Regions from separate parts of the Homo sapiens genome. Here region 2 is reported to be linked to region 1. Evidence: microRNA targets listed by miRTarBase, many of them from high-throughput screens and not tested one by one. Region 1 holds a microRNA gene; the other region holds the end of a gene's coding sequence.

Evidence for each region. Region 1 holds the annotated microRNA hsa-miR-7158-5p (GGCUCAAUCUCUGGUCCUGCAGCC, at 8,679-8,702, opposite strand). A microRNA usually pairs through its seed, bases 2 to 8, with sites in the 3' UTR of a target mRNA and lowers its output. Matches are read on the target gene's strand: a 7mer-m8 pairs with bases 2 to 8, a 7mer-A1 pairs with bases 2 to 7 and ends in A, and an 8mer does both.
Region 2: miRTarBase lists ZZZ3 as a target of hsa-miR-7158-5p. Seed matches in the 3' UTR shown: 7mer-A1 at 2,788-2,794.

What each region holds. Positions count from the first base shown.
Region 1 is chr2:5,965,751-5,983,363 of GRCh38, reverse strand. It overlaps MIR7158 (microRNA 7158), which reads right to left and starts at 8,702; the gene lies at 8,632-8,702. It overlaps SILC1 (sciatic injury induced lincRNA upregulator of SOX11), which reads right to left. Exons shown (of 2, transcript NR_026832.1): 2 at 3,146-14,778. LOC400940 (a long non-coding RNA gene) reads right to left here and starts at 1,386. Exons shown (of 3, transcript NR_026833.1): 1 at 1,292-1,386; 2 at 507-1,066. RefSeq lists enhancers at 1,879-2,625, 7,101-7,754, 8,634-9,135.
Region 2 is chr1:77,552,569-77,566,250 of GRCh38, reverse strand. ZZZ3 (zinc finger ZZ-type containing 3) reads left to right here. Exons shown (of 15, transcript NM_015534.6): 14 at 70-170; 15 at 467-3,835. The coding sequence ends at 611. It overlaps AK5 (adenylate kinase 5), which reads right to left. Exons shown (of 14, transcript NM_174858.3): 14 at 6,285-7,649. The coding sequence ends at 7,581. Among named protein-coding and RNA genes, the nearest start is that of ZZZ3, 120 kb to the left of the region's middle. RefSeq lists a silencer at 12,353-12,647.

The sequences.
Region 1 (17,613 bases):
TCTATTGGGAAAAATGTGAAAATATTCCTTTGCATCCAGAGTCAACCCATTTGGAAATAGGAGCAAAGCTTCCACAGACTCCATTTTTTCTTTCTATCAAATATCCTTTGTGAGATAAAGCTCCAAGGATGGAAATTAGCCGCTTCTGTCCTGAGAATCTTCCCAACCCTATTCTTTCAAAGGATTGTCCATAAGGCTCTGGGACCACCACAATGCGGACACGCACGGCTGGCTGACGGCCTCGCTTCAATAGAAAGCCTTTTAAAACCTGCTCCCATGGTCCTGAAAAAGACTCTCTTCTTGGGGGCTTAGGCCCCGGGGAAAGGGAGCCAGGGCTCCGGAACTGCTCAGCGCAGCTCACGAACTGTTTTCGTCCACATCTGAGAAGACTCCAAAGCACTAAAAATGATGAGGGGAATTTAAAAATCATGTTTGTTCAAGGGATGGGGGGAAGGAAAGGAACAGAAGACGGAGGCAGGGGAAGAAATTTATAGCAAAAAGGTTACCTCGGCTATTTCTCCACTCTGGGGGTCATCCTAGAAACGTCCCTCCTCCAGACATGGGGGTGGTGCCAGTTGCCAATAATCCTCTCTTCCCGGAAAATAAAAACCAAGCGGTTAGCAAATGTCAAGATAAAAAAGAAAATCAGCTGAACAAGGGAACAGCCAGGATGGGCTGCTCGATGGGCGCCGGCCACGGGAGCCCCAGGTGCAATCAACAGCTCTTTAAGACTGCAGGTCATCATTTCTCTGCTTTGAAAAACCCAGCCATCTCTTGGAGAGTCAAATCGATTAGAGGCCACCTTTTGTGAAAGTGATGCTATTATTGTGGTTGTAATTTATGCAAAGACATTCTGTGGCACACGATGATTAAATTATAGTATAGAAGACAGGATTTCTATAGCGTGTTCCCTCCTCTGGATTTTGCACTTTTATCTACATTCGAATCAGGTCTGTGAAAATTTGGTGCACATGCTTTTCATTCTGGATGACAGAACATTTCCACATGTTTCTGTGTATTTTTGAAGTGGAGAGAACGGTACCGCCACTTGGAGATCCAACTGAGCCTACGAGGCAAAGGCAATGTGATTCTTTTATAAAAAGAAAAGCAGACAGAAAGGGTTATTTCCTGACACTCTTTAGGGGTGAAGCTGTGCAGGTAAAATAAAATAATAAATAAAATACACTGAAAACATAAAAGCATTGTGACTTAGCTCCCTGAACGTCAGAGACATCACCATACAGGATTGCATGTGCAGAAAGGAGACCCAAGGTTAAGATTTGCTTCTTACCTAGACAACACCTCAGCATCCTGCCTTGTGGCCATAACTAGAAAGGAGCTTCCTCTGTCTCCACGTCAGCCACCATTTTAGTGTGGTCTCTGGATACGGTAAGATGGAGGCAGACAGAGAGAAAGCCTGAGGGGCTCCCTCTGCACACGCTCAGCTGTGCCCCGCAGCCCCAGCGCCTCTCCCTAGGTGATGCATTATTCACCAGCCCCCTTCAGCTGAGTCAGGAGGAGCTGAGACAGGACAGCGCCGCGGCGAAAACGCAGACGATGACAAAGCCTGCTTTACCGACGGTCCCGGGGTATTGCAGGGAAAGGCAGCCCCCCTCCAAGGCATTACAATGTGGGCTTTTAATGGGCTATTTGCTATCTAGAAATATTTATGATGCAGCCGCTATTCGTGTGGGGTTGCTTCCTCCCTGGGCTAGCTGCCTTTTCCTCTCTCTCTCCAAATATACAGCCCTCATGAAAAATCTCTCCGGGGATCACAGGATGCTGCCGGCAGCTGGGGAGGCTCTTGCTGGGGCCGACGGGAGCCTGTGTGGCAGGGTGGCTTCTCCCTCCACCCCCTTCAGCCCTTCCAGCACCCTCGGTGCCTGCCCTCTGGATCCTTAACAAAGAAGAACCCTGCCTCCTTCAGCGCCTGAAGCCGGGGGAGGTGCAGGTTGAGCTGGGAAGAAATGGGGAGCAGGGTCCGGGCTGTTTCAGACCTTCATGGAGGACCCAGGGAAAGAAGAGCCCCCAGAGGGATTCGTGGACACAGCGTGACCTGCGGGCCCCTGGGCTGCGCCTGCCGTCCATCATGTCAGGAGGAGGAGAAGGAGAGCACGAGGCGTGTGTGTGTGTGTGTGTGTGTGTGTGTGTGTGTGTGTGTGTGTGTGTTTAAAGAATGTTAATTCATACTGAGATCCTAGGGAATATTTTCCTAACTAGGACAGACTTGGGAATAAATAACGTGCTTATATAGCTGGGTCTCCCCTCCCCTTCCTTTCTCCCACTCACTTAACACACACACACGTGTGCGCACATAGACACACGCACACACGTGCACACACATTGCTAGTTACTAAAGCTAGCCTGTGGGGCAAGGAAAAGCTGACCTTGAGAAATGCAGTTTTCAATTCCAGCTGAAGCCCACGTGAGGAGCCTGTGCCTGGCACTCCAGACAGACTGCATACGTTAGGTGGGCCACAGGCAGGCACATCCCACACGTGGACTTGGGCGAGGTGCCCTAATGTGGCAGCTGAGGAGCAATAGAGGGACCCAGGTGGAACCATTTCCACAGGCCTGGAGTGTGCACTGCAAGTCTCCAGCCTTGACAAAGATCATGGGTGTGCTGAGGTTTCTCATCCACCCGAGCCTCTGTCTACACACACAGAGTGCCTGGGAGCTGAGAAGTGTGTTTATTCTGCTCCTTTCCTCCCTCATAAATGACTGCTACCAGCACTTGGAGGAAAAGCCCAAGCTGTGTCTGAGTGAATGGAAGCAGAGTGGGCAGGCCGGCCTCACTAGCCAAGTCCAAGCCGCGACCGCGTGTGTAAGTGATTTCCATGATCTCATTCCTTAACCCTTTTTGAGATGATCCTTCTCTTCCCGAGTGCACTTAGGGAAGGCAGGTAAAATCATCTGCTTTCCTGTCTCTTTCCTTGATCTGGCTCTATCAGAGAAAGAAAGAACTGTTAGGACGCATCCAAGAGAAAAGATACCTGATCAAATTATTTCAATGAAAGAAATCCAGTTATAAGATATAAATATATACATTCGAATTCTATTATAAACATGAAAGTGTCTGTGTGGGTGCGTATCTGTAGAAAATACAAGAAGAATACATATCAACACGGAAGCAGTAATACCTCTTGGTAGTGTGATAATTATATTTGATTTTTCATACTTTTTAATTTTTTCTCAAGCAAGATATGAGTTATTATTGCTTCAACAATCAGAAAACAATTAGCTTAAAGAAACAGACAATCTGAACAGTTACCATACACATTAGCAAAGACACTGTTTAAAGTTCCACTCAAGTACCCCAGTGTTCTCAGCAGGCTTTCTATCTTCTCATTGTATTTATTCCAGTTTTCATTTTAACTCAACCCAGTGTCTTTTCTGGGCTGTGAAGATACTCGTGGTGTAAACTGCTAGTGATTCTCAGTGACTGCACTTTGCTTATGTCTTATTATATAGGAATATATGACCTCAATATTTAGCTGGGCATGTGGTCATCAGAGAGTGCAACGCTTTCCAGCACTTTTGCAGATGGGTGTGGCTTAGTGACTAAGTCCCAGCCCATCAAATATGAGCTGAGGTGATGTGTGCAACTTTAGTGTTATCAGAAGAGGCAGATCACCCAGACCTTTCCTTCTTCTCTTCTTTATGTCTGAAATCCAGCCAAAGCAGAAAGCCATTAATAACAGGACTACACTGCAACTCCATAGCTACCTGCAGGCTGACTTGCTGGAGAGCTCTGACTGAGGCTGGATGGGGAGGGGCTGCCACCCAGGACCATTCTCTCCCCAAGTTTGGCATCCAGGGGACAACTGGGTCTCTTTGTCAGCTACTTCTGGGCCTTGGGGCCAGATAGACAAACGAGTCTCCTACAAAGTCCAAGGGGCTCCTCTCTGTAACACGTTTTGAGTTTTTTGAAATTGCCCAAGAATTCCCTCACTAATAGATTACTACTTAGGAATCTTCATTTTTGGTTCTGTGTGCCATAACATACCCCGTTCTCTTTTCCCATTATTATCCTCCCCAAAACAACCACTGCCAGCCCCCTTATAAATTGTGGGAAGTGGGTGAATGTTCCCCTTTCCAAAGCTCTTGGAGCTTGTCTCTGAAATGCTTTCCTACTCAATGTCAGGAAATCAGATGTCGGTATTTACCTCAGCCTGGAATCTCCTTCCCAAGCCACCCTCCTGGGTGTGCCCTGGGCCAACACAATGATTCAGGTTACAAGGTCTGCAATAAGCTTCTGGTAACAGGACATTGTTCTGCGGTAACTGGCTATCTGGGACCTGTTAAAGGATACCCATGCTTGTTTCTCTGGAAGATTCCAGAGCTCTTCACTTCCATAATGGGTCCCCACCCAAGACTAGAAAAGCCAAGTGAAATCTCCTATCTGAATCTCTTGCTTTTGCTCTTGATGAAGAGCCATCCTTTTTTCCTCCTCCTCTCCCTTCCGTATCACCACTGTTTAGGAATATCTATAAGGAGTTCAAATCCAGTTATGCAAACCTTTGGGTTGAGGATGTCCCAGCTTTGCCCTGGCCACACCCATTCTAGGGAGGCCAAGCCATGCCTCCAGCTTCACATCTCACTGTCCAGAGCCTCCACATCCATGTCACATTTCTGCTCTGAGAACAATGCAGAAATACCACCCCTCCCCAGAGGGATTTAGGTAGGTGGCTTGCACCATCTGTCATCATCAACATGATCCAAAACCTGTTTTAAGTCATTAAAAATTTCTCTGAGTCATGGTCGTCAAAGATTCTCTTTGAGTACACAAATGTCCTAAATGTGGAGCCCTGTGACACACCATCATGTGACATTTTCTGTGGCCTCAGATACTGACCACTGATGCAACTTCCCAGTAGGATGTCTCAGTTAAGGCTCAAATCTCTATCCTCAGCCCAGGCCTCTCAGTTGTGGAAAACACCTTGGATTTGGGTGAATTAGTCATTTCCACAAAGGCAGTGGCTTCATTCCCGTAGCCACTATGGATCTCGTGCCTTGGGTGACAAGTCCTCATTCCTTGTCCCCAGGCATTCTGGCAACGTGGACCCCAGTGCCATTCATCTCCACTCTGGATGAAAGCTGTGGTTTCTTAGAAGTTCACATGTGGAAATGGGGCCTCAGTATCAGCCTCCACATCCTTCCTTCTTCAGGAAAATTCATCTTATGGGCAAATTCCAAATAACTTCAGAATCCACCAGAAGAATTATGCTTGGCCATGGTTACTCCCAGTTGAATAAAATCAGATCCTAATTTGTCTTCAACCTCCTGGCTGCAAATTTATCTCAATCATGTTTTCAGCCATTCCTCCTGGACTTGAACACAATTCCCAAAGATTCCGTAGAGTCCAAACATCAAAGGAAATGTTCTCTGTTCTTCAGCTCCAACTGTTCCCACAGAAGTACTCTCCATCCCTTTTAGATAAGCTGACTGAGCTGTTTGGACACAGGGACATGTCATCACTGTCCCCAAAGCCGTGACACTCAGTGTCCAGGGTCCTCACATTTTTCATGACCTCTATGTGCATGGGGCTGTCTTATCCCAGAGACTTGGGGTACAACCTCCACAACACCATCAACAACAAGAACATCCTCTGCATCCCCATGCCCTAGCTGTCCTTATCTCTCATCATGGAAAACTTCACACCATGACTTCTCCCTCTACTGGCAGTGTCCAGCATGCTTCCTCTCAGAAAACCCAGGCTTTCACAGATAATGGTTTGCCTTGTCTCCTAGTGGCCTAGACACTACTGCTTTTGGTCCTATCACCCAAAAACGTGAGCAAAATCTACAAAGGCAAGAGAGCACACACTCTTGGCCACAAAAGAGGGAGAAAAACATAACAGTGTCTCAGGATCTTGTTTTTCCCATGTGGTTATTAGCATTGCATCTGTATTTAGTCCATACGCTCTTGGTAAAAGAGCCTATGTTTGCTCTACTTTAACTCTGTTAACAGAAGTACAAATGTTGAAGAATGTGGCATCCATGAGTGCAGGAGGCCAGTGGGGGTGTGAGACGGTTGGGACTGGGTTGGTTATCTCTTGTCTATTTTTCACGTGAGAGTAATTTACATGATATTGGTTTGTGTTTTGACTTCTCAGGAGCTATCTTCTATCTGGAGTCTCATATTAGGTGAGATTGCTGCATGAAGGCAATACTTCTTTACAGAGTTTGCTGGCCACTGGTGAGCTAGACTACTTCTCTTCCTTTAGCTAGGATTGCATTTCTATTATTTTCAGAAATCAACAAAGTTTAAGACAGTAAGATCTCAGCATATAATCTCAATTCTTGTCATCAAATTATCTTACATCACTTATAAGATTCACCTCAATATTGTATCTAAATTTTCTCCTCTGAAAGCAGATGCCTTTTCTGCACAACAAAATGTTGACCTAGGCCTTACCTTGATAAAAGCTACCTCAAGCACCCTGAGGGCATTAGGAGGTGCAATAGGGACAATAAAGCTTGCTAATGTGATTGTGGGTGGCCTGGCAACTGGAGTGATGATGGGGAAAGCCTGGAAATCATTCCCTTCTGAGACCAGACAGCCTAAGCCGAAACCAGAGAAATGCATCACATACAAAGGAGGCAGCAGAGCTGTCTTCATAAATCGCAGCCTGTAGGCCTTTTAATGTGTCAGCGTAACCCGCCGTTAACGATATTTAATTGCTATCTACAGTAAGTTCCGTAGATCATTACCATACCAGTCATTTTTCAAAGATCCTCGTTAGCACAGGACTAGTGAACACAATAAACGATGTGACAGGAGATGGCTAGAGAAATGCTGCAGAGAATGAGCTCATGTAAGTCAGCCAGCTCATAGAGGAAACCCCCTATCTTTCTACTGGCACCATAATAAAATCCACCATGCACACTGGGCTATTTCCACTGCAGTGCATAAGACAAGAGAAATGGGTCACTATTGTGCTCCTGCTGGTTTCCTCTCCACCAATGCAGCTTGTTCCCTCACATAGTAAGGTGATGTCCACAATGCCTGGCTAGAACAGAAAAGATCTGACAACACCGATGTCCACACCTGAAGTGCCTGAAAATAGCACCTTCCTATGAACATTTAAGTTGGCAATCCATCCATTTGGGAGGTACATGTGTACTGTGAACCTACCCAGAACCAGGCACTTTGCTAAGGCATTGAGATTCAAGGTCAAGGGAGGCACAGTCCCCATGGACCTTGCAGCCGGGGACACAGCTAATGGACAGGAGACATTCATAGTCCAACTCACTTGCTTTATTTCAGTGACTTTATTTTCCATTTTGTTATTACCTTCTTTTTCAAGTCTCCTGTTGGAATTTGGATTATGTTACTTTATTTTTTCCTTTAAAATGCTTTTTGAATGATCAAAGGCCCATTTTAATCCCTCTATTGTCTGCAGCTCCTTAGAGGTGAATTCTCCTTTTACAGAGTCTGTTTGCCCTCAAGGTGATGAGTCTCCACAGGTGCTGGGGGCACACCTTCCTTAGGAATCATTCTCCCATGGAGTCTCAGAAATGCCTTGAGCTCTGCAGGCATCTTCACTGGAGCAATGATTTTTATGCTGGGCTTGAGACTTTTGGGTTGCAAGCTGTTCCACATCAGCTTTTACCTTAAATTCTTGCTCAGATTTTCCAAACAGCAAAGACAGTGTGAATGGAGGCCCCTTACACCAGCCACAGTTGGCGTTCTGACTCCTCTGTGTGACTCCTATCCCACACCAGGCCCAGTCCCAGCATTAGCTTTTGTGATGCATTCCTTGGTACAGAAGGCTAAGCATCGCTAATTTCTATTCAGAGACACAGGGACTCTACCCTTGTTCCTGGCTTTATAAAGCTGCTCAGTTCTAATGTGCACTGCACACAACAGCTGCCAGGGCCACAAACACCCCCAAGCAGACGTTAGGCTCTCAACCCCTAAGATACAGTTTTCCTCTCAATAGCTCATAAGACTCTGCCCTCTGACGTGAGAAAATAGAATTCTGTTGTGCTTTTTAAGTATGCCTATGGCATCTTTTAAAATATACCATATATGATCCAGTATTTCTTTGTGTTTGGAGTGTGAATCTGCAGGTGAAAGAGTGTGTTCTACACGTGCCCGATCCATCCTCATTACACAAATTCACCCTCTACTTTAAAACAGGGAATTTGGGCCTTTGACAGGAAAGAAGCCGGACAGTCATGGGGCCAAACTGGAATCAAATGTAAATATTTAATTTCCTCCTGTTAAAAGCAGAGTGGACCCACAGTCCCTCCCAAAGTAAAATGCACAATAATGTGTCAAGAGCCCTGGACTTATTGCTTCTCGGACGTTAGCAAAGATCAAGCGCAGACCACTGGCTTTGGGGTCTGATACCCCAGGAGAGTCCCGGTTTCGTGCTCATGTGTTATGTGACCCTTGACCCCTCGTTCAATTCTCACGTGCTTCACTCTCCTAAGCCATGCAAAAGGGACATAAGGATATCTCCTGAAAGCAGAGTCGGCTGGAAGGCTGGAAGGCTTATGTGAAGCAGTTGCATATCACTTAGCACTTAGAATGGGCAAATAAAAAATGGTTTAGCTTCTCCTTTGTGGGAACAGAGACTGGGATGGTTTGTATCCTGGCTCTCCTGAAACTGCGCTGCCGAGCTGGGCCCAATCTCTAGTTCAGCTCGCTTCAGAAAGCCAAAGGCAGAAGGCTGCAGGACCAGAGATTGAGCCTGGCCACACAGCCCCTTCTTCCTGATGCCACATGGCTGGTGATCCTGGTCACAGCCTGCCTGAGCTGGTGGAACACAGCTTTGTCGGACTGTTGAAGATAACCCTACAGAAAAATCACCTGGTGAAGGGCAAATGCGCATGTTTTGTCATAAGACCAACTGGGTTTCCTAAATCAGCCAAGCCGTTTATCCTGTGGTCTTGGCAACAGGCTGACCTTCCTTTTACAGAGGAGATGGTGATGCCTGGTCCCAGAGGAGCGCTGTGAGCACCCAGGCATGGATTACAGTGCTTAGCACAAAGTAACATTAAATGTGAATCTCTCTTCTAAAACTATGTTACAAAAAGCAGTAATTCATTCCAAGCAAGACTGTCAGTTTAGGTGAATCAAGTAATCATAATTTCTCTAAAACCTTTTTTCTACTGTAAAAGCTTTAATTTTTGTCTTTATTTTTATTGATACATCTTAGATGTGCATATTTTGGGAGTACATATGATAATTCAACACATTCATATAATCAAATCAGCATAATTGGGATATTTGTCACCTTAAATATTGATCTTTTCTTGATGCTATGAGCATTAGGTTAATGGGTACAAATGTACAGTTAGATAAAAAGAATAAGACCTGGTCTTCAATACATCATGGTGGCTATAGTTAACATTAACCATTGTACATTTCAAAATGCTAGAAGAGAATAATTCCAACACGTTTTTTGTTTGCTTACTTTTTTCTGAATTCTAATAGACTGATACATCAGTCCCTGCTGTAGCGAAAATAATGACTTCCTCAAAATGCACTTCAAGAATGTGACCTCAATGGATGTAACAGAAAGAACCTGCTCTTGGTGTTTGGGAAAGAAAAGGTGTTAGGCCCGCCACAATTCCTTCTCCTCCCAGGTGATTCAGAGTCCTGGAGGACAGAATACCTTGGGAACTTGAGTGAACTCCTTTCACCAGCCCAGCCTTGACTCAGATTCCAGCTCATATAGCTCACAAGCTCCACTGCCCAGGCCAAACCCCTCAAATGCTTAGGTTTTGTTTGTTTATTTGAAAGAGTTTTGCTCTTGTTGCCCAGGCTGGAGTGCAATGGCGCAATCTTGGCTCACTGCAACCTCCGCCTCCTGGGTTCAAGCGATTCTCCTGCATTAGCCTCCCGGGTAGCTGAGATTACAAGTACCCACCACCACGCCCGGCTAATTTTTTGTGTGTTTTTAGTAGAGACGGGGTCTCACCATGGTGGCCAGGCTGGTCTCAAACTCCTGACCTCAGGTGATCCGCCTGCCTCGGCCTCCCAAAGTGTTGGGATTACAGGCGTGAGCCACCACGCTCGGTCTAATGGTCAGGTTTTTATTCCTGTATATGTCAAGTAAGGACAATAAGAATTACTTCAAAGTGTTGTTAGGAGCTAATGCATGTAAAGCATTTATAAGAATTTTTGGCACCCAGCAGATGCTCAGAAACTTTTAGCTCATAATATTAGCATTGCTATAAAAATAACATTAATAAAAACCAACAACATTACTACCGTGAGAAAGTCATAATAATATACATCAAAGGATATTAATAATATACAATGACTTTCCCATATGCCATTTGTATGGCCAGAAAGCCAGACACAACTCCTGACTTCCTCCTGCGATTCAGACGACATTGCTTGGATGCAAACTTACCTGAAAGAACCACTTAATAGGTTTGTCACTCTAAGCAAATACTAGTGTTCAAGAAATGTTCTCAGGTGATCTAAAACACAGTCCAGAATACCTGCTTATGGCTTTTCAAATGTTTGCAATACAAGGCCTGCCTCTGTGCTCAGCTCCCAGAGAGAATTTTTCTAATAGATGCAGTTTTTCCTATTAGCAATGGAACATACACATTTGAAACCCAGCTGGCAGCCTCTATGATTGTAGGCTAAATCTCGTAAACAAAACTTAAATGTAAAGAAGTGTTTGTACTAGCTGCAAATGGGCTACTGGTTTGATGCCACAGGGGAAGTTGTTAGCAGGTGACATCAGAGGATGGATTAGTTAGGGTAACATTGTGAACCGAGAGACAGGAGAGATCTTGTCACTCACTGAAGGCGAGACTCTTCTAGAGAGTTGTTTTCTCCCCAAGATCTGCGCCTTTCCCCAGACTGAGTCAGGATCTCCGAGGTTAGGACCTAGCTACGTATATTTTGCACAAAGAACTCTGATTTGGACTCCAGGATTTAGAACCACAAATGTGCATACAGACCCAATTTTGTACATGGGAGGTGAGGTCAGATAGATAAAGTAACTTGCCAGCAGTCACTCATCTCACTAGTGTCACAGCTAGAATTAGAACCTATGGACTTTTGGTCCCTGGTTTGCAGCAGTTTCTGTAACACTAGTGGATATGAAACAACATGAAACACAAAGAACTGAGTCCTCGGAGGTGTGCAGCCCAGCAAAACTGAGCCTCTGGGTGGGAGTGGAGGGCAGCCAGAAAGAAAGGCCTGCGGTGGGTCTCTGCGTCTTAGATTTAGGAGGTAACCCCCACTGCCAGATGGTTTAGGTGATGGTGGCCGTGTGGGAGTGTGGTGATGGCTGGGGAAAATGACAAAGGCAATTCCCTTATGATAGCTGCTGAGGAGAGCAGTTGACACAACCCTGCTGCCATTTTTGACTCTTTCTTCACGAGTTGAGGATAAGGGGATATAACCGCAGCCACCAGCATGGAGATTCCCTAGGTTCTTAAACTTACAGGTTATTAAGGACATAAAGGGGTCTTCATGTATTCTAATGCCCTAATTTCACAGGAGAAGAGACAGTCTCAGGGAAGGCAGGTGGCTTGTTCAGTTTCAATCAGCCAGCAACTGGCAGAGCTGAAACTAGAACTCAGGTCTTAGGGCTCCAGTTCTGTAACTCATCCATCACACAAAATAATTATAATAGCATGTGCCCATGTGGCCTGGACATGGCCTGTAGTCAGTGCCATAGATAGGGATGGATGAGACCCACTGCCTCTAAGGCATGCAGTCCTATTGGCTCCTTCCTGCAGCAGTCCCTGGACCACCAGGTTCAGAAACACCTGGGTCTGTGCTCACATGCAAAGTACTGGGCCTGCCCCAGATTTACTGACTCAGAGCCCCTGCAGGTGAGGCCAGGGAAACTGGCTCAGCAGGTGATACCTGGGTACTCCAACATCTGAGAAACCCCGAGATAAGACCTCCAAGTTCTGGGATATTGTGGGGCTCTGTTGAACAACAGAAGGTGTAACGTACAAGAAAGACTGACCTAAAAGTGGCATCAATTATTTCATTGAAGAATCATCAATTGAGTGCCTACTGGCTTATAGTGCCCACTGTTCACTATGCTGGGAACAGAAGTCAACAAGCCAACCACATTCCAGCTGTGAAGGAATGCATCCGGACAGCCATAGAAGGCCCTGGATGCCTGGTGCCTGGGCTGGGGTATGTGCCAGGTAAAGAAGGGTGTGGATGTCAGAGAAGAACAACTCTTGACAGTGCCCAGGAAGGGCAGCTGCTCCTCGGAAGCAGGGCTCATGGAGCCATGTTGCTATGGATACAAACAGTGTCTGGTTACTTATGGGAACACTATTGTTAGGATGGTTCTGAAATGCTTTTGTCCTGAAGGTGGAGAACTCACCAGACCAAATTACTCTTGGCTAAGGTGGTTAACCCTCTACTCATACGATGTCCTGGGGCAACAGTGCAACCTCAAAAAATATTAAATAAGACCAAACTATGGAGACAATAAAAAGATCAGTGGTTGTCAGGGGCTGAGGGAGCAAGGGGATGAAGGAGTAAGTATCAGTGGAGCACAGAGGATTTTAGGGCAGTGAAACTCGTCTGTATGATACTAAAATGGTGGAGTCATGTCATTATACATTTGTCCAAATGCCTGGAATGTACAACACCAAGAGTGAACCCTGGCGTCAACTATGAACTCATTGTGATGATGATGTGTCAGTGTAGGATCATCAATTATAAAAAGTGTACCACTCTGGGAAGAAATGTTGATAATGAGGGAGACATGTTTGTTGGAGAGGCAGGAAGAATATGGAAAATCTCTGTGCCTTCCACTCAGTTTTGCTAATAATAAAACTAATAATAATAAATAATATGAAATTATTAAATAATATTAATATTAAAATAATATTATTATAAACTAATAATAATAAAACTAATTTTTTTCTGACATCTCTGTCGTCCAGGCTGGAGTGCAGTGGTGCAATCATGGCTTACTCAATCGCCATCTCTTAGGCTCAATGGATCCTCCCACTTCAGCCTCCGAAGTAGCTGGGACTACAGGCATGCGCCACCACACCTGGCTATTTTTTTTTTTAATTTTTTAGAGACAGAGTCTCACTATGTTGCCCAAGCTGATCTTGAAATCTTGGCCTCAAATGATCCTCCCACTTCAGTCCTCAAAGCGTTGAGATGATAGGCATGACCCATGGTGCCTGACCTTAAAAAGTCTTTCAAAAAAAAATTAAATATTTCTAAACTGTTTTTTAAAATAAGTTGTCTCACGGTGTATAAAAGTTATACTATCAAAAGTCAACTTTTGGTAAATGAAGGCTGCCAGATTGATTAGAAATTAGAAGGGGTTTGTCACTGAATCTGGTAAACTCAGAGCAACCACCACCTCTCTCTAAGCCTCTAACCATCTGGATTAGGAAGGAGAGAGGTGGGCTGCTAGAATCCCTTTCTTCAAGCTCTGATGTTCCAAGACAAGGATAATTGCTGATGAGAAAAAAAAAATCAGAATCTCACAGACTGCAAAAGCAGAACAGCACAGTTTCCACAAAACCATACAAATGTACTTTTTGGAACATAAGAGCCAAGCACATGCAACAGCTTAGGGTCCGTAACTCAGCATATGTAAAGTTCGTAAATTAATGTAATAGGAGGCAGGGTAACATCTGTTCTGTAGTACCCAACAGAGGGGATTTGGATATTTGAGAAGAGGCTCTGCACATAGTAAAGTCAGCCTAGGAACATGTGAGCAGTATTTACAGTGAAAAGGTCCCCATCTCTAACTATACACATCTGCTCCAAGACAGCTGAGGCTGGCGGTGCAGACCCCACTGAAGGGAAAGCCCCTTCCGAGGAAGTGGCCTGCTAACAAATCAAAATGGAGCCATCTGCCCTTCCCACTGCATGCGCTCCACCAGCCACCTATTCGTGCTCACCAGCTGGCAGCCTGCCCTGGCCCCGGCATGTGCCTGCCCCCAGTGGGCAGGGCCATGACAAAGCCACTGCTGGTCACCATTAGTGGTCAAGTCTCATGGTGGGTTTATTGAAGAACGTTTGCTTAATTTTAGATCAAAGCAGTACTTTCTTCTCCCTCTGGAAAAAACAAAACACACAAATAGTATATTGGAGCAACGAAGAACATAATCAAGTTTATGTATGGGCCACTACGAAACTGAATAGTTACCTCCTACTTAAAAGGGTATCCTGGGCCACGGTGAAGCGGTCCTTTTATCCTGTGGTCTGCAGTGGAAATGGCAGCATTACTGGAGAAGAGCTGTAAAAACATGCACAGTGAGTTGCTGCCGCATCCTGATGGCCCAAGAGAGGGAAGGAGGAGGAGATGAGAAGGGTTGAATCGGTTCTCTGACATGCCAGAGAGATAAAGGGGTGTCTCCCAAAGCTCTGAGGGCTTTTAAAAACTGGATGTCCACTGATATTTCAAAACAGTGCTGGGTATCCATAATTACAAAGGCAGGTCACAGGGGTCCAGAGTTGAAATCTCTGCTTTTGGATGCCACAGATGAGCCTTCTCAGCAGGCTTGGCAAACATCTTCACAGCCACCATGACACGTGATAGGATTCGGGGACCACAAAAGGAAAGAGCTAAGTTTTGAGGCTGAAGACCAAATTGGTTAAAAATATGGTCACTCTCAGGGTCAGTAAGAGAGAATTAAGTAAAAAAAAAAAATCTTTGAATACAGGGAGCAAATCAGTAGATATAACATGGAATGGCACAGGCCATCAGGCAATCCTAAGGCAGAGGTAGATTCATCTTCAAGTGGCTTCCTCCAGCCTGACACCTGAAAAAGTGCAACTGCCTCTCATTTGCTCTTTCTCCTGTTTATCAAAAGGGAAGAAAAGAAGAAAAAGAAAATGTTAGTAGCTGAAAACATGTCAACACTATTCTGGGCATTTCCCTAAGTTATATAATTGAATATTCACAACTCCCTCTGATGTGTAGATATTAATATAATTATTTGCATTTTACCAATGAACTCTGGTAAAATGTAAGCTATGAAATACATCCAGAGATACTATGTGATGTGCTCAAAGACAAACAGCTAACAGGCAGCAAACCCAGGCTTCAAGCAAGTTCTATCTGAAACCTTTTTCCCTCTTCCCTAAGGCATATTAAATTGATGTTGGGCTTCCCATTTATCTTGTTTCATGAAAGAATGGTCTAAGCCCATGGCTTCTTCCCTATCCAAAAGAAAGTAAACAGTCATGAGACCAAGATCCCCTGGAATCTCCCCAAAGGTAAGTCAAAGCTCTGTGTATTCCAAGCTCCTTTGCTGCCAGGTCCCGGCGATCGTGGGATGGGGATTCTGTCTCTGAGCCAGGTCCCGGCGATCGTGGGATGGGGATTCTGTCTCTGAGCTCCACTTATTTAAATCTTACCAGATTAAAGGTCTGACTCCGGTAAACTCATCTCCATGACCTTGCCTTTTAAAAAATTGATTTTATTTTTTAGAACAGTTTTATATTTTAAAAATGTAGAGAAGGAGCTCCCCACTGTGGAAAAGTGGTAAGCAAGAGATCCCTAGTGGTTCACGTTCGCACCAAGGACTCTTTCAACCCTAGCCGTAGGTGAGCCCCTTGGCCCTCGTGGGCCCTTAGACTGGTATAGAAAGCTGCCTGCAGTCTATGTGATGGCATTGTCTCAGGGAGAGACTTTGCACTGGATGCCAAACACCCCCAAGACCCAAATAACTGCAACATGATGCCATTCTGAGAGCCCAGTCCACACCAGACTACATCCCGCCCTGGGGACCAACAGCACCTGCACCTCCACAAACCTTAAGCCCCACTGACATTCCCCTACATCCACCCAGAGGGCTGCAGCATTGCAATGCTGGCTGGACACAGTGGCGCATCTGGAGCAACAGCACTCTAACCCACACAGTGTCCTACACTCTGGAAAATGGGTGGTGCAGTGCAGCAGGAGGCTGCCTTGGGGACAAAGGAAGTGTGTACTCCCCAGAGTCTGAGAGCTGACTGCCAGGGACCACTGCCACTGACAGCAACACAATCTCCTCCAGTGGCAGGGTGATCACATACCTGAATGTACCTTTAGCTGACTTTGATACCAGCCCACCCACAAGCCATCCACCACAGGCATCTGTGCAAGGCACATGGGAGCCATGGGTTGGCCCACCACCACCACTGCCACTACCAATGCCATGCACACCACCCAGGGGCCCAAGGACTGGCACCCCCAACCCACCAATGACATCACTGGTGCCCAAGGACCAGCCCTCCTGGAGCCCCTGTCCACAGGAAAGTCTTGCCACAGCCTCCAATAACAACTGCCACCTAAGCCACTGAGGAATTCACAGACATCACTGATGTTGATCACAGTTAAAGAAATCATGCAGAGACCACACTTCTACACCCACCCAGAGTACAAGTGAAAGCACCCTGCCCAATGCACATTGTAGATGTATCTTTATAAAAAAAATTCCTTATGAAAGATTTTCATCCAATACGTAACATTGGACAAAATGACTGGTACACCAGTTGTGCAGATATCAACATAAAGACACAAAAAATAAAAAGCAAGAAAACATGACACCTCCAAAGAAACACAATAATTCTCCAGTAACAGATCTCAAAGAAAAGGAAATCTATGAAATGCCTAAAAATATCAAAATAATGATATTAAAAATTGGTAAAATAAAGAGAACATGGGTAAACACTACAAATAAATTGGAAAGAAAATTATAACTTGATTGAAAAGTTCAGCAGATATAGAAATCATTTAAAAACACACACACAAAAAGTCCTGGAACTGAAGAATACAATAAATGAAACATTTTAAAATACAATCAAGAGCATCAAGCACAATACACTGCATTAAGCAGAAGAAATTTTTGAACTTGAAGACAGGTCTCTTGAAATAACTCAGTCAGACAAAAAATAAAAATAAAAGAATAAGAAAGAATGAAAAGAGAATGCAAGACATATGGGACATCAAAAAGTGGCCAAATATTTAAATTTTGGGTGTTCCAGAATAAGAAATGGGTAAAGGCATAGAGAACTTACACACACACACACACACACACACAAAAGCAAAGCTATACTTTAAAAGTGAAAGGGAAATAAAGTTGTTCCTAAACAAGCAAAAAAAGATAACTCATTCCCACTAGACCAACCCTGCAAGAAATGCTTAGGGGAGTCCTACATCTGGAAGCAAAAACACAAAATCTGCTGATATGGTTTGGCTGTGCCCCACACCGACTACCCTATCTCATCTTGAATTGTAGCTCCCGTAATTCCCACATGTTGTGGGAGGGACCCGGTGGGAGATAATTGAATCGTGGGGGCAGTTTCTCCCATACTGCTCTTGTGGTAGTAAGTTTCACCAGATCTGATGGTTTTATAAGGTGTTTCCCCTCTCACTTGGCTCTCATTCTCTCTTGCCTGCCACCATGTAATACATACCTTTCGCCTTCTGCCAGGATTGTGAGGACTCCCCAGCCATGTAGAACTGTGAGTCCATTACACTTCTTTTTTTTTTTATTAATCACCCAGTTTCGAGTACGTCTTTATCAACAGTGTGAGAACAGACATACATTAAATTGGTACTGGGAGTGGGGCACTGCTGTAAAGATACTCAAAAATGTGGAAGAGACTTTGAAACTATGTAACAGTCAGAGCTTAGTACAATTTGGA
Region 2 (13,682 bases), not on the chromosome of region 1:
CCTTGTGGAAAATAAAAAAGATCGTGGAACAGTATAACTTAATACATTTTCTCTCTGAATCTGTTATAGTGTGATAACTGTGGCATAGAACCCATCCAGGGTGTTCGGTGGCATTGCCAGGATTGTCCTCCAGAAATGTCTTTGGATTTCTGTGATTCTTGTTCAGACTGGTAAGTGTTTTCTTCATTGTCAGTCTTCAACTTAGACAAGAAAAGAGCTTCTCAGCCATTAGTGAATTTGATTTCCAAACATAGAAAATATTAATACCCACACTTAGTGAATTAAATTTTGTTGTTCTAGGCAATTAATTTTTTTCTGTAATCATACCACATGTCAAGTAACTTTCCGTTGGAGATTTTGATAGATTAATGGATTTAAACAGGGAGAGCTGTGAGGAAGCTTTGTAATACACAGACTAAAATGCATCCACTACCATGTAATGATGTGTGTCTTTTTTTCTTTACAGTCTACATGAAACAGATATTCACAAGGAAGATCACCAATTAGAACCTATTTATAGGTCAGAGACATTCTTAGACAGAGACTACTGTGTGTCTCAGGGCACCAGTTACAATTACCTTGACCCAAACTACTTTCCAGCAAACAGATGACATGGAAGAGAACATCATTTACTAGTCCTCTTCAACACATAGCAATGGTATCATTGTTAATTATGTGCACAGTTTGGAAAGATTCTCTGCTTTCCCAGAAATGACACTCACAGCATGAGAGCTTCCTGAGTGTTCTCGTCAAGTACAGCTCTGCACCGTTGTGGCTCTAGATCACTGTTCAGCAGCTGAACATTCCTGGTGAGCAAAGGTTTCCCTGGTGAATTTTTCACCACTGCGTTTTAGGTGGTGATCTTAAATGGGTGAGATGGAACGAGAGCACACATTAAAGAGAGAGTAAATTCCAAAGGTTTCAAAGAACTTGGTCATAAATATGATAATGAGAAGACAAAGTATTTATATTAAAACAGTTTAGTAGCCTTCAGTTTTGTGAAAATAGTTTTCAGCACAGAAACTGACTTCTTTAGACAAAGTTTTAACCAATGATGGTGTTTGCTTCTAGGATATACACTTTAAAAGAACTCACTGTCCCAGTGGTGGTCATTGATGGCCTTTAGTAAATTGGAGCTGCTTAATCATATTGATATCTAATTTCTTTTAACCACAATGAATTGTCCTTAATTACCAACAGTGAAGCACTACAGGAGGCAACTGTGGCATTGCTTCCTTAACCAGCTCATGGTGTGTGAATGTTATAAAATTGTCACTCAGATATATTTTTTAAATGTAATGTTATATAAGATGATCATGTGATGTGTACAAACTATGGTGAAAAGTGCCAGTGGTAGTAACTGTGTAAAGTTTCTAATTCACAACATTAATTCCTTTAAAATACACAGCCTTCTGCCTCTGTATTTGGAGTTGTCAGTACAACTCATCAAAGAAAACTGCCTAATATAAAAATCATATATATGGTAATAATTTCCCTCTTTTGTAGTCTGCACAAGATCCATAAAAGATTGTATTTTTATTACTATTTAAACAAGTGATTAAATTTAGTCTGCACAGTGAGCAAGGGTTCACATGCATTCTTTTATACTGCTGGATTTTGTTGTGCATCATTTAAAACATTTTGTATGTTTCTTCTTATCTGTGTATACAGTATGTTCTTGAATGATGTTCATTTGTCAGGAGAACTGTGAGAAATAAACTATGTGGATACTGTCTGTTTATATTATAGAATGCTTGTTGTGACTTCCTTTTGGTTAGATTTTGGATTTTTTTTTTTACCAGTGTTAAAACCAGAAATTGGTATTTTTTAAAATGGTTTGCTTCACATATTTAAGAGTTTTCTTTCTGTCATTTATGAAGAATAAGGAATGTATTATGGAAAAGAGGGTGATCTTAAGCAACCCTGTAAAAAATGGTAAAGATTTTTACTCAGTGTGTGCTGAAACACTAAATTAAACTAGCTTACAAAAAGGAAACACGGACCATGGTTAAAGAAAAAGGCAATTATTAATGCTCAGGTGTGAAAACTAAAGTTGAAAATTTTTTTTCTAGTTGTGTCTCATGAAGATAAGCCCCCATGTATTTAAACAGATGGCTTTTGAAAAATCACCTTGTTTCCTGGAAATTACTATTAACTATAGGAAAAGATAGTATAAATATTCTAAGATTGATTGTTATATTTGACCCAATTTTTAGAATCACCTGTTTTTTCCTATTTTAAATCAAGGGAACATTATTTACTAGTTCTCTTCAGTACATAGCAGGGTACTAAAATCATACCCTGAATTTTTTTTAATTGAGAAAAGTAATAGAATTTTAAATATAGAAATATGAGAATTTTAAAGTAATATATTGATTAAAGATCACTGATGATATAGATATAATATATCATAACAGAAGGAAAGTAAATGGACTTGAGCTTAACTTCTCACCCTGGAATTATTAGTGGGTGAAGAGGGGAATCATTAGCATTCTGGGCGTTTTTATATTAAATGTTTTGTGAATATGCCAGAAGATCTGCCTTCAACTTGTAATTAGGCAAGATAGTAATGCTTGATGGTAACTTCTATGTTTGTGTAGAAATAATACCAGTTAGTTTTGGAAAGCCATTCAGATCCATTCAAAAATTCCATAAAGTATGATGTATGCTTTGGAAGAGGGATATGAGTGATACAATTGTTATATAAATGGAATAGACAAACCATTTGAATGCATTTTTCTAGGGCAAACATTTTTTGAGATTTTTGAGTTAAGAAGATTTTTCGGCTTGAGCAGAAGATGTGTTTGTTTTGCATTTTTCAGCTCCAAGGAAACAGCCCCCATGGCTTTAAAAGGCCCTGAAGTTCAGATAGTAGTAGGTAGTGTTTTGTTATTGTTTTAATTTGAGAGTTGCAGGAATAATGGGCAGAGCTGTCATTTGCCGGTAGGCTACCATCTGCCTACATAGAATTATTGGACTGTAAGCTAAAACAGACTGTAAAAGACCTACTTGCTAAAGCATTGCTTATTCAGTGGTATTCAGTAGATAAGATCTATTTCCTGATATATTGTGCTCAAGTTATTTGCACATCTTAAGAAACTTTTAATATCTAAAACCATTGTTGTAAGATTTAGGTAGAGGAGGTTTCCTTTTGTGTGATGCATAATAATAGAAAACACTGATACAGTGTTTACTATGTGCCAAGCAAGCATATGATAACTAATTCTTAACAACTCTATGAGGCAGGGTCATTTATTATCCTGTTGTCATATGAGGAAATCTCGCCAGAGAGAAGTTAATTAACCTGCCCAAGGTCGTATAGTTAGTAAAGTGGTCATGCTTGGATTTTAACCTAGGCAGATTACTTCAGAGTCAGCGTCTGCCTTACTATCCTGTTTCCTGAGCAGGAATTTCCCCTTGTGTCAGGCAACACTAGGTGTTAGGAGTGGAGGTGTGCAGATGTTGCCTTACATTCTGTTTTCCTGATGTGGTGTGCTTCCTAAGAGTACAAACCTGAGCATATGTCCAGGCTTGCAAAGTCTCAGGCAAAGCTGGGACTAAGGCTTGTGTTTCCTGCCTTGGGTAGGATTTTCTTCTATGCATGTTGGGTGCTTCTCACTTAACCTAATAGTATGCCTTGTCTGTTTTCCCCCCTTCCCCTTTTTGTTTAAATTGATTCACAGAACACAAAAATTTACTAGGTATGAACATTTGAAAAAATGGAATAGAGAAAATGGTACATCACATGTAATAAAGATAAATATTGTTTTGTGAAATGTCTTTTTCAATCATAAATATGTGTTGTGTGCTATATAAAACTATTTCTTATTGTGGATATTGAAGTTTGAAGCCTGTTGTTCATCTATAGATGCACTGGATGGGATTGGAAGTCTTCAGATTTCAGTAGGGTTTTCCACAAGCTTATGAAGACATTGTTCTGTTTAGGCTGTAAACTGTTTTTATTTCTTGATGAAAAATGTTCTTCTATTTATATGATCCCAGAAAAAAGATACAACTTTTTTTTTCTACAGTTAATGTAGCTAGTTAACTAGAGTTTTCAGAGTTATAATACATTTAGCTCCATGAGAACAGAGACGATCCATGTCTGTCTGTATCTCTAGGGCCTGGCATTTAATAGATTCTCAATAAATATGTGTTGGTTGTATGACCAACATTTTGGTGAGTTTACATTTTTTTCCTCCAGGAACTTGAGAGACACCACCTATGATTGAGTGTGTCTGTGAGATCCTTAGAGGCCTTGCATCAGAAGGTCATCTTGACAGTTCTGTGAGAGGACAGGGGAATTGGACTCTATCTTACCCAAAGGCTGTGATTCAACCCTGGGTGGCAGAGGTGGTTTTGGTTCTCTGTGGGACCCTAGATAGGCTGTGTATCTTGATTCTCTTCCATGTTTTTAAGAGTAGTGTAATGGGGCTGGGCATGGTGGCTCACGTCTGTAATCCCAACACTTTGGGAAGCCGAGGCAGGTAGATTGCTTGAGCCCAGGAGTTTGAGACCAGCCTGGGCAACATGGCAAAACCCTGTCTTTACTTAAAATACAAACAAATGGGCATGGTGGCACGTGGCTGTAGTCTCAGCTACTCGGGAGGCTGAGTTTGGGGGAATCACCTGAACTTGGGACGTTGAGGCTGCAGTAAGCCGAGATGGTGCCATGGCATAATAGCCTGGGGGAGAACGCTGTCTCAAAAAAAAAAAAAAAAAAAAGCAAGGTAATGGAAAGGACACTGGAGTGAAAATTCTGGGTCTTAGTCCCAGTTGTGGAAGTGAAGCACTCAGTAAGTGTTGACAAAGAACTACCTTTCATTGCACATTAGGAGCTAGTAAATGATTCGTGTGTCTTACTAACTTTTGTTTAATCCTCAGTTCCTCTATGAGGTTCATTACTATTATGTTCTCCATTGTATACATGAGAAAACTGGAGGTGCAGAGAGTATGTTAAATATGTTAGCTCTCAATAATAATTACTGTGTGTGGGACTGGAGATACCAAGCCGTGTCCTTATGGAGGTTATAATCTAATGCAGAAGACCAGCAATAAGTAAGTAAATAAAAACTATTACTTCAATTCAGGCAGGGATAAATGCTTTGAAGATAAGTAATGCTCAGAGAAAAATAATAATGGGAGAATGGGGAATAGTCTGCCATTTTAGATGGAATAAGCAAAGAAATCCTCTATTGGCCAGGGTAAATTCAAATAGAAACCAGAATAGAGCAAGGGAATTTGCTGCATGAATAATCTGTAGGAAGGGGCAGAAGGATAGCAGTAGCACACGGGCCCTGAGCCAGTAGACCGTGGCTTGTTCTGGCAACATTAAGATGGCCAGAGTAGCTTAAGCCAAATGAGCAAGAGGAGAGTAGTAGTTGATGGCGTCGAAGAGGGCACAAGCCAGCTCAGATGTGGCCTTGAAAACACATCATTGTAAAGGAGTTTAGATTGTGTTCTGATGTCTTCTACATACACACAGGTCTTTCGCTAGACAGAGACCTCTAAGGTCTTTTCCAGTATTAAAATCTTATGACTTTAAAGTAGTGATATCATTTCAAGCCATTCAAATCAGTAATGTGTTCTAGAGAAGAGTTGATTTGCACTTCTAGATACTCTTCAGGGGCAAAGCCATTTACCCTTGCTAAATTTTTCAAGGTGGCTGTCAGCTACAGCCGTAGAAGCCTGTAAAAGATGGCTGGACCTTTCTGCCCCTCTGCTGTCTCATTTTCCTTACCTGTGCAGTCAGAGCTGTGCTGGGCATGGACTGTGTCTGCCAGTATATGGTATGTGTTTCAAGAATGTCAATCCCTACAAAGAGTCATTTTATGTTTTCTGGCACAACTGATGATTTTCATCCTGTAACCTTTTTTTTTTCCAGTTTGCTCAGGTACTTATTATGCTCCCCGATAGAGAGTGTGACAACTTGGGGTAGTATTAAAGTATTTGACAACTGTTGGGAGTTATGGGAACATGCCCCTTTTTGTTAATAGAGGCGTAACTGTAACCAAAGAAATTTAATTTCTTCTTTAGCAAACACTAACATTTCTGTTTCAGAATGAGTGCTAGAGAAAGAGGAAATATGACAGTTACCATGTATCATGAATACATTGAGTTCTCTCTGTAATAACTCAAAACTGATCTATAGCTAAAATTAAAACCATATAAGCGTATCGTAAATCATCTTGACTATTTCTGTGTTCGCTTCTAATTCTGTTTGGAATAAGGCTTCAAATGCTTTCCAGAATGATGTGAGTTACAAATAAATAGAAAAAGAGTTATCCTGTCTTCCATTTATTTTATTTGTACATATCCATTTCAAGAAAAAAAAATGACTTAAAAAATACAATTCTATCCCAGAAATGGATCCTTATCTGCACAGCCATTGAAGAAAAAAAAAAAAATTCATGCAAACTGAAACTATGCTTTTTTGTAGTGACTGAGTGGAAGATGCAGTTATTCCAGTAGAATATATAAGCAGCTCTGATTTTACAACTGATTGATAGCACAAAAGAGAACCCAAACTTCACTGGTTTAATGCAAGGAAACACAGTTTTGCATATGGGTATGACAAGGTTTGCAAACTCCTGGAAAGGGCCCATATGAAACAAACACATTGAACACACCACTTACTGACATGCCCCTCCCACCCACATCAGGTTTGTTAGGGTATTTTTTTACTTGCTTGGCAACAAATAAATACATGGGTGACCATTTAAAATCAAAATTATAATTTGATATGTGCCCAATGAATGAAATAGCAAATATCTCATGCTTTTAAGTTACTTTTGGTCATTTATATTAATTTATAATTGCTGAAATGCATCACCATGTAGAGAAGAGACTAGGTTACACAATTTATCAGATTTGTTCTCTTAGCCATGACGACAGTATTCCAAGTTTCTAAAAAATAATAATAATAGAGAAGGTTACTGATGACTAACCTGGGTTTTACCATCATCTTGGGAAAGCTATACATCTTCATATTTTAAAATTTCTGTCAAATTTTACTTGCTTGATGCCTCTATATCATGTACAAGGCATTGTGTAATCAACCCACCTTATGGCTCTGAGCCACCAGTGGATGAGAGTTGACAAAACAGCCAGACACCAAAGGAAGATGCCCAGGGCTGTCCCCTATGCCAGGGGCCTCCATTGGGGAACAGTATGTAAGAGGAAGGTGTGACTGGGGGTTAGGGATGCTTAATGAGAGGAGAACCAGATGATCAGGGTCTAGCAAGGCCTGTGATCACAACGGACACAGACTGGCACCGCACCACTGTTCATGTACTGACTAGCTCTGAGTGTGGCCTGCATGATACAAAGTGTGTGTGCCGTGAGTGCAGACAGTTGTCTGAAGTGTGGAGAATAGGTTGATATAGTCCCAAATACACCATGCATGATTTCCAGACACCTCTCACACAGGTCTAGCTGGGAAGCAAACAGTGCTGTCAGGATTTAGGAGGTGGTGGTTGGTGGGGGCGGTGACACAAAAGGTTTAACTTGAAACATTGTGTTAAGGAATGAACTTTTTAATGTTTTTCTGTTTCCATTCTAACAAACATGCATTTTTGCCTTCAGAAAATAGAGTCAATAGCTGTGCAGAGTTGAAGAAAAACGTCCTCTGGTGTTCCCTCTGCATTTATCTATATTTAAAAGGAAAAAAAGAGAGTTAGTCTGAAATATCTGTAAATCATGTTTAATAATGAAAGAACACTATCACTTGCTCATAATTTGCTCTGCAAAATTTTAAAACACAAGACCCCCCCCAAAACACAGAGAAAAAAGTGAAGAGTAGTTTTAAAACTAGGTGTCTCAATTAAAAAAACAATGAAGTACCACTACACATCTATTAGAATAGCCAAAATCCAAAGCACTGACACCGCCAAATGCTGGTGAGGACATGGAGCAATAGGAACTCTCACTCATTGCTTGTGGGAACACAAAATGGTACACCCACTTCAGAAGACACTGCAGTTTCTTAAACTGAACATACTCTTACCATACTTTTTAGCAATTGCACTTCTTGGTGTTTACCCAAATGAGCTGAAACCTGAACATCTACCCAAAAACCTGCATATGGATGTTGACAGCAACTTCATGCATAATTGACAAAACTTGGAAGCACCCAGGATGATCTTCAGTATTTTAATGGATGGATAAACTGATATATCCAGATGGACAGGGGAATATTATTCAGCACTAAACTTAAATATATATTACTCAGTGATACAAGCTCCTCTGAAGAGGGTACATATTGTATGGTTCCAATTATATGACATTCTGGAAAAGTCAAAACTGGAGGCAGGTTTAAAAAGATCAATGATCGATGAACAGAGGGCGGTGGGGGGTGGGATGAGTAGGTAGAGCACAGGATTTTTAGAGCAGTGTAACTAGTATATGGGAACTCTATGCCCAATTCTGCAGTGAAGCTAAGACTTCTCTAAAAAGGAAAGTCTATTTAAAACAATAAGTGCCTATTTAGGTAAAACATTGCTAGGGGTCATGGAAAGACTTCGGAGTTACTTAAAATGAGACTTCTGAGTGTTCTGCAGCATTTGGGAATAGGGGAGAGATTGAGGGATGAGGGAGAGAGATGTGGAGAAGAAAGCAAAAGACTAGGACCGCAGTGTGTAGGTGTGCTAAGGTAGAGTCCGCTTGGAGACTGTTGGCATGCTAGCCCAAGGAGGACATATGAAGGGAAGCTGATTTTCTGGGCACGAAAGTACTGCCCCTTCTCCTCTCCTAACGCACCCACCGCTGAGATTTGTTCCATTACACCTGTATCATCTACAGAAAGTAAAGGCCTGGCCAAGCACGGGAAGCACCTGGGAGGCCAGGGAAATGCTGGTGGTATGCATCAACTTCCATGAGTGTCACCCAGGTTACTTTGGTAAAGTTGGTTATGAGGCATTACCTCTTAAAGAGAAACCAGAGCTTCTGCCCAACTCTTGACCTTGACAAATGTGGACCTTGGTCAGTCAGGAGACATGAGTAATCACACGCTGACAAAAAAAAATAATAATAAATAAAACAGGCTGGAGCTGCTCCCATCATTGATGGAGTGCTATGGGCTACTGCAGAATTCTGAGGAAGGGAAACTCCCAAAGTAGCCTGCTGTCACGAAGGCCAAGTTCTTCGGCAGGAGAGCTGGGAGAAGATTAAGGGTGTATATGTGGGGGGAGGTAGGGAGGCTGTGTTCTGGTGGCTTCAAGCCACAAGGAGGGAGCTTAACTAAATGCTAACAAACGAAAAAAGGAAAAAAAAAAGGTAGAGGGTTGGTGATCTACATGAGTCATGTGGGGGGCGGGCGGTGGTAAGCTTGCTAAAACACAGCTTTCCAGGCCATAACTGCAGAGGGTCTTGGTTGGTGGGTTTGGGCTGGGTCTTTAATCTGTATATTTAACAAATTCTCCACATGATTTTGTTGTGGGCCATCTTGGAGCACACTTTGAGAAACACAAAGTTTTCAAACACACATTTACAAGCACACTTTGAGACTCTTGTCTACCTATTTAAATCTTCTTTGTGCAAACTAGTTTGAATTTTTCTTCCCCTAGGGCTTTCACTGCTTCCAGAGGTAGAGTGAATTCTCAACAATATCAACAAAAAGAATGCTGCATGTTCAGATAGTGGAGAAAATGGATACAACAATATTAACGGAAGCACTGTTTGTCGTTCCCCAACTGGAAAAATCCTGTATGTCCATTAGCAATAGATGGATAAATTGTGACATAGTCATATAATGGAATACTATAGTAATTAAAAGAAAAAGAACCACAGCTATCTTCAACAACATGGATTAATTTCACAAACTTGAGAGACACAAGCCAGTCTCAAGAATATGAATACAGTATGGTTCAGTTTATATAAGGTTCAAAAACAAAGCTATATTGGTTAGGGATCCATACATAGGCAATAAAGTCATAAAGAGAAGCAAGGAAATGATTATCACGAAATCCAGGACATGAGTTACTTCTTGGGGAGAGGAAGGAAGCTGTGACAGGGGAGACATATGGGGAGGGTGGAGCTTCTGCAACTCTCTTCTATTTCTTTTCCTGCATGGTGGTTACATGAGTGTTCATTTTATTCCTCAAACTCTACATACTACTTTTATGCATTCCTGTATGTATGATATAGCCCACAATAAGGAAAAAATAAGTTTTTTTAAAGTTCTTTTTCCCCTCTCATAAATATACTTCATCCTTACAGGAGACTCAAAGATAGCAATCTGCAATTTGTCTGTCCAGCTACAGGTTCTACATCTGGATGGTAGGGGCTTTGCCTTTGCCATGTTCATGGCCCCCACAGCACCTTGCTTATTGCTTTACTTCTTTCTTCTTTTCCTTTCAACCAACAAGCATTTCCTGGTTATCATCAATGTTTTGCAGTTAACCAAGTTGAACGAGAAACAATGGTCCTGTTTTCCAAGAGCTCACGCTCAGTGGTAGAGATGAACATTCAACAGGAATTTACACTGTTAGGAGATAAGCACAGGAGCTATAAGGGCACCTTCCATAATGTGGGGAGGGCAGAGAAGCTTTCTGAGGAAAGTAATAATTGTCATCATTTAAAATGATAAATATTACTAGTAATGGCACAGGAATGCTTTTTAAATAACCAAAGTAATCCTATCAATGATCTTAGAAGTATTGTTATCCCAGTTTTACAGATGATGAAACAGGGGCTCTGAAAGATGAATTAAATTTTTTCAAGATAATGTGGTTAAGTAAGTGGAGAGAACTGGTTCACACCCAGGCCTTTGATTCTGAAGTCTTTGCACGTGTTGACTACATTACACTATGCTGACCAGTTCAAAATGGTGGATGGCCAGATATGAGGGGGAGTAGCAAGGAGTGAAGCTGGAATTGTAGGGACAGGCTAGGCTATGAAGAGGCTTATGTACCCTATTGCATGACGATAATGAGGAACCACGTAAGAATTGTTTTTTTGTTTGTTTTTTGTTTTTTAAAACAGGGTCTTGCTCTGTCACCCAGGCTGGAGTGCAGTGGCACGATCTCAGCTCACTGCAACCTCTGCCTCCCAAGTTCAGGCGATTCTCCTGCCTCAGCCTCCCGAGTAGCTGGGATTATAGGTGTGTGCCACCATGCCTGGCCATTTGTCTTTTTAGTAGAGATGGGGTTTCACCATGTTGGCCAGGCTGATCTTGAACTCCTGGCCTCAAGTAATCTGCCTACCTCAGCCTCCCAAAGTGCTGGGATTACAGGTGCCCAGCCCATGTAAGAGTTTTTAAGGAATGGGCTGACATCATAAAATATGGGTACACAGCAAATATTTGATAAATATTTGTTCCATCAAAAATAACCGCAGAGGCTGGGCATGGTGGCTCACGCCTGTAATCCCAGCACTTTGGGAGGCCAAGGCGGGTGGATCACGAGGTCAGGAGATAGAGACCATCCCGGCTAACATGGCGAAACCCCGTCTCTACTAAAAATACAAAAAAAAAAAAAAAAAATAGCCGGGCATGGTGGCGGGCGCCTGTAGTCCCAGCTACTCGGGAGGCTCAGGCAGGAGAATGGCGTGAACCCGGGAGGTGGAGCTGACAGTGAGCTGAGATCGCGCCACTGCACTCCAGCCTGGGCAACAGAGTGAGACTCCGTCTCAAACAAAAACAAAAACAAAAACAAAACCCAAATAAAACAAAAAAACTGCAGAAAGGTTGAAGTGCAAGGCAAAGAGCCCTGTATGAGGCGTGCCTGGGATTGCCCTCAGTGTGCTTCAGGACTTGACAGGCCATTCATCCTCTTGGGGCCTCAGTTTCCTCCTCTATCATATGAAGGGACTGAACTAGGACTAGATAACCTCCAGGTCTGGTTCCAGCCTGGATGTTCTATGCTATTCCAAATCTGAGCTCACTTTTTAGTGGGGATGAGCTCCTCTCAGCAGGTGTCAGGATTGTTCAGTTTAGTTTGGTGTTGCCAGTTAAGCTCGGCCTAGAAGAATAGACATGTACTGGAAGATAATAAAGGTGGCAAAGGTGTAGAGATCTGAAAGCACATAGATTTTTCAGTGAACAGTGGGTCATTTGTTGAGGACAGAGCAAATGCTGCATGGGGTGATGGGGGCAGGCAGATAAAAAGAGGAAGCTGGAAAAATAGGTTGGAATGAGGTGTCGCCATAGATTTGCCTACTCAGGACATTTTATATCAATGAAATCACACAATATATGGTCTTTTGTGACTGGTTTCTTGGCATAATGTTTTCAAGGTTCGTTTATGTTGTAGTGGATATCAATACTGTATTCCTTTTTATTGCTGAATAATGCTATGCTGCATTTAACCCGAATGTTCCAAACATGCCTTGGGATGTCTGCCTTCCTCATCTCTTTTCAGCAAATCTGTTTCTGCCCACAGCCCACTATACAGTCACCTGAGCTCGCCTTATCAAACGCTGGGAGGAGGGAGGAAAGGAAGGGGTTGCTAACTCACATTCCCGCCCCTTCTCAAGTTTCCTCCCCTGTAGCAGGGACGGGTAAGAAGGTGTAAATCCACAAACGCTTGATTTATTATTTACACTGTCCATGATCGTATCAGTGGAAAATGCATCAGGTCTGTCACTGGTCCCCAAGAAGTTCCATGAGGACAGACTCAAATACAACTCTTCTGTGCATAATGTAAGTTCTTCACCCTAGTGATCCAATTTTTTGTCTTTGGCACAAACACTGCCCCAAATCAGCTCCATATCTTCCCCAGAAGAGGAATATAATTAGCCTACGGAATGATCCCAAGTGACCATCTACTTCAAATGCATGTGAATTTTCTCACTACAATATCACTACCTAATTGAGGCACATGTGTAGTGGGACTTTTCAGCCTCAGTTACGCCCTCTGCTTCATCTGTACAAACCCAACTGTGTTCTAGGGCCCGTTCTTGTCCTCACCAAGTGGTAGATATTTTGCAGCATCTTCCTCATTATTTATCTGTTCTCCAGCCTCTTGCTGAATTCCACCAGTCCCTTGCATTTAACTGACTTAGCATGGTCTATTTCTGCTCCTTGGCCCTGAAACATTTCTCTCCTCCAATCTGTCTTCTGCAACCAATACTACTTAACATTCCCAACTTTATATATGATTTTCCAAATTTACCTTCTTTCCAAAAGAAAACCATACCTATGTTTCTCATACTCGTAATGTGTCTTTTAACACTATTAATATACAAATTTTTTAAAGAACCCCCTTTTTCTTTAAGAGGTAAGGTTTTGCTCTCTCACCCAGGCTGGAGTGCAGTAGTGAGATCATAGCTCACTGTAACCTCTAACTCCTGGGCTCAAGCAGTCCTCCTGCCTCAGCCTCCTGATTAGCTGAGACTACAGGCGTGTGCCCCCATGCCCAGCTAATTTTTTGTATGTTTTTGTAGAGATGGGGTCTTGCTATGTTGCCCAGGCTGGGCTTGAAGTCCTGACCTCAAGCAATCCTCCCACCTCAGCCTCCCAAAGTGCTGAAATTTTAGGTGTAAGCCACTGTGCCTGGCCAAGAACACATGCATTATGTTCTATTTCCTCTGTGTTTCATAATGGATAACTTGGTCATTCAACATAATGCCAGTGTTACACTCACATAAATTGGGTTGATCCTTGTCCAGGATTTCTTTTAGACTCTGATAAAAACACATTTGCTCATTACAACAACCTTTGAATGCACTCTATTACCTTCTGCCTT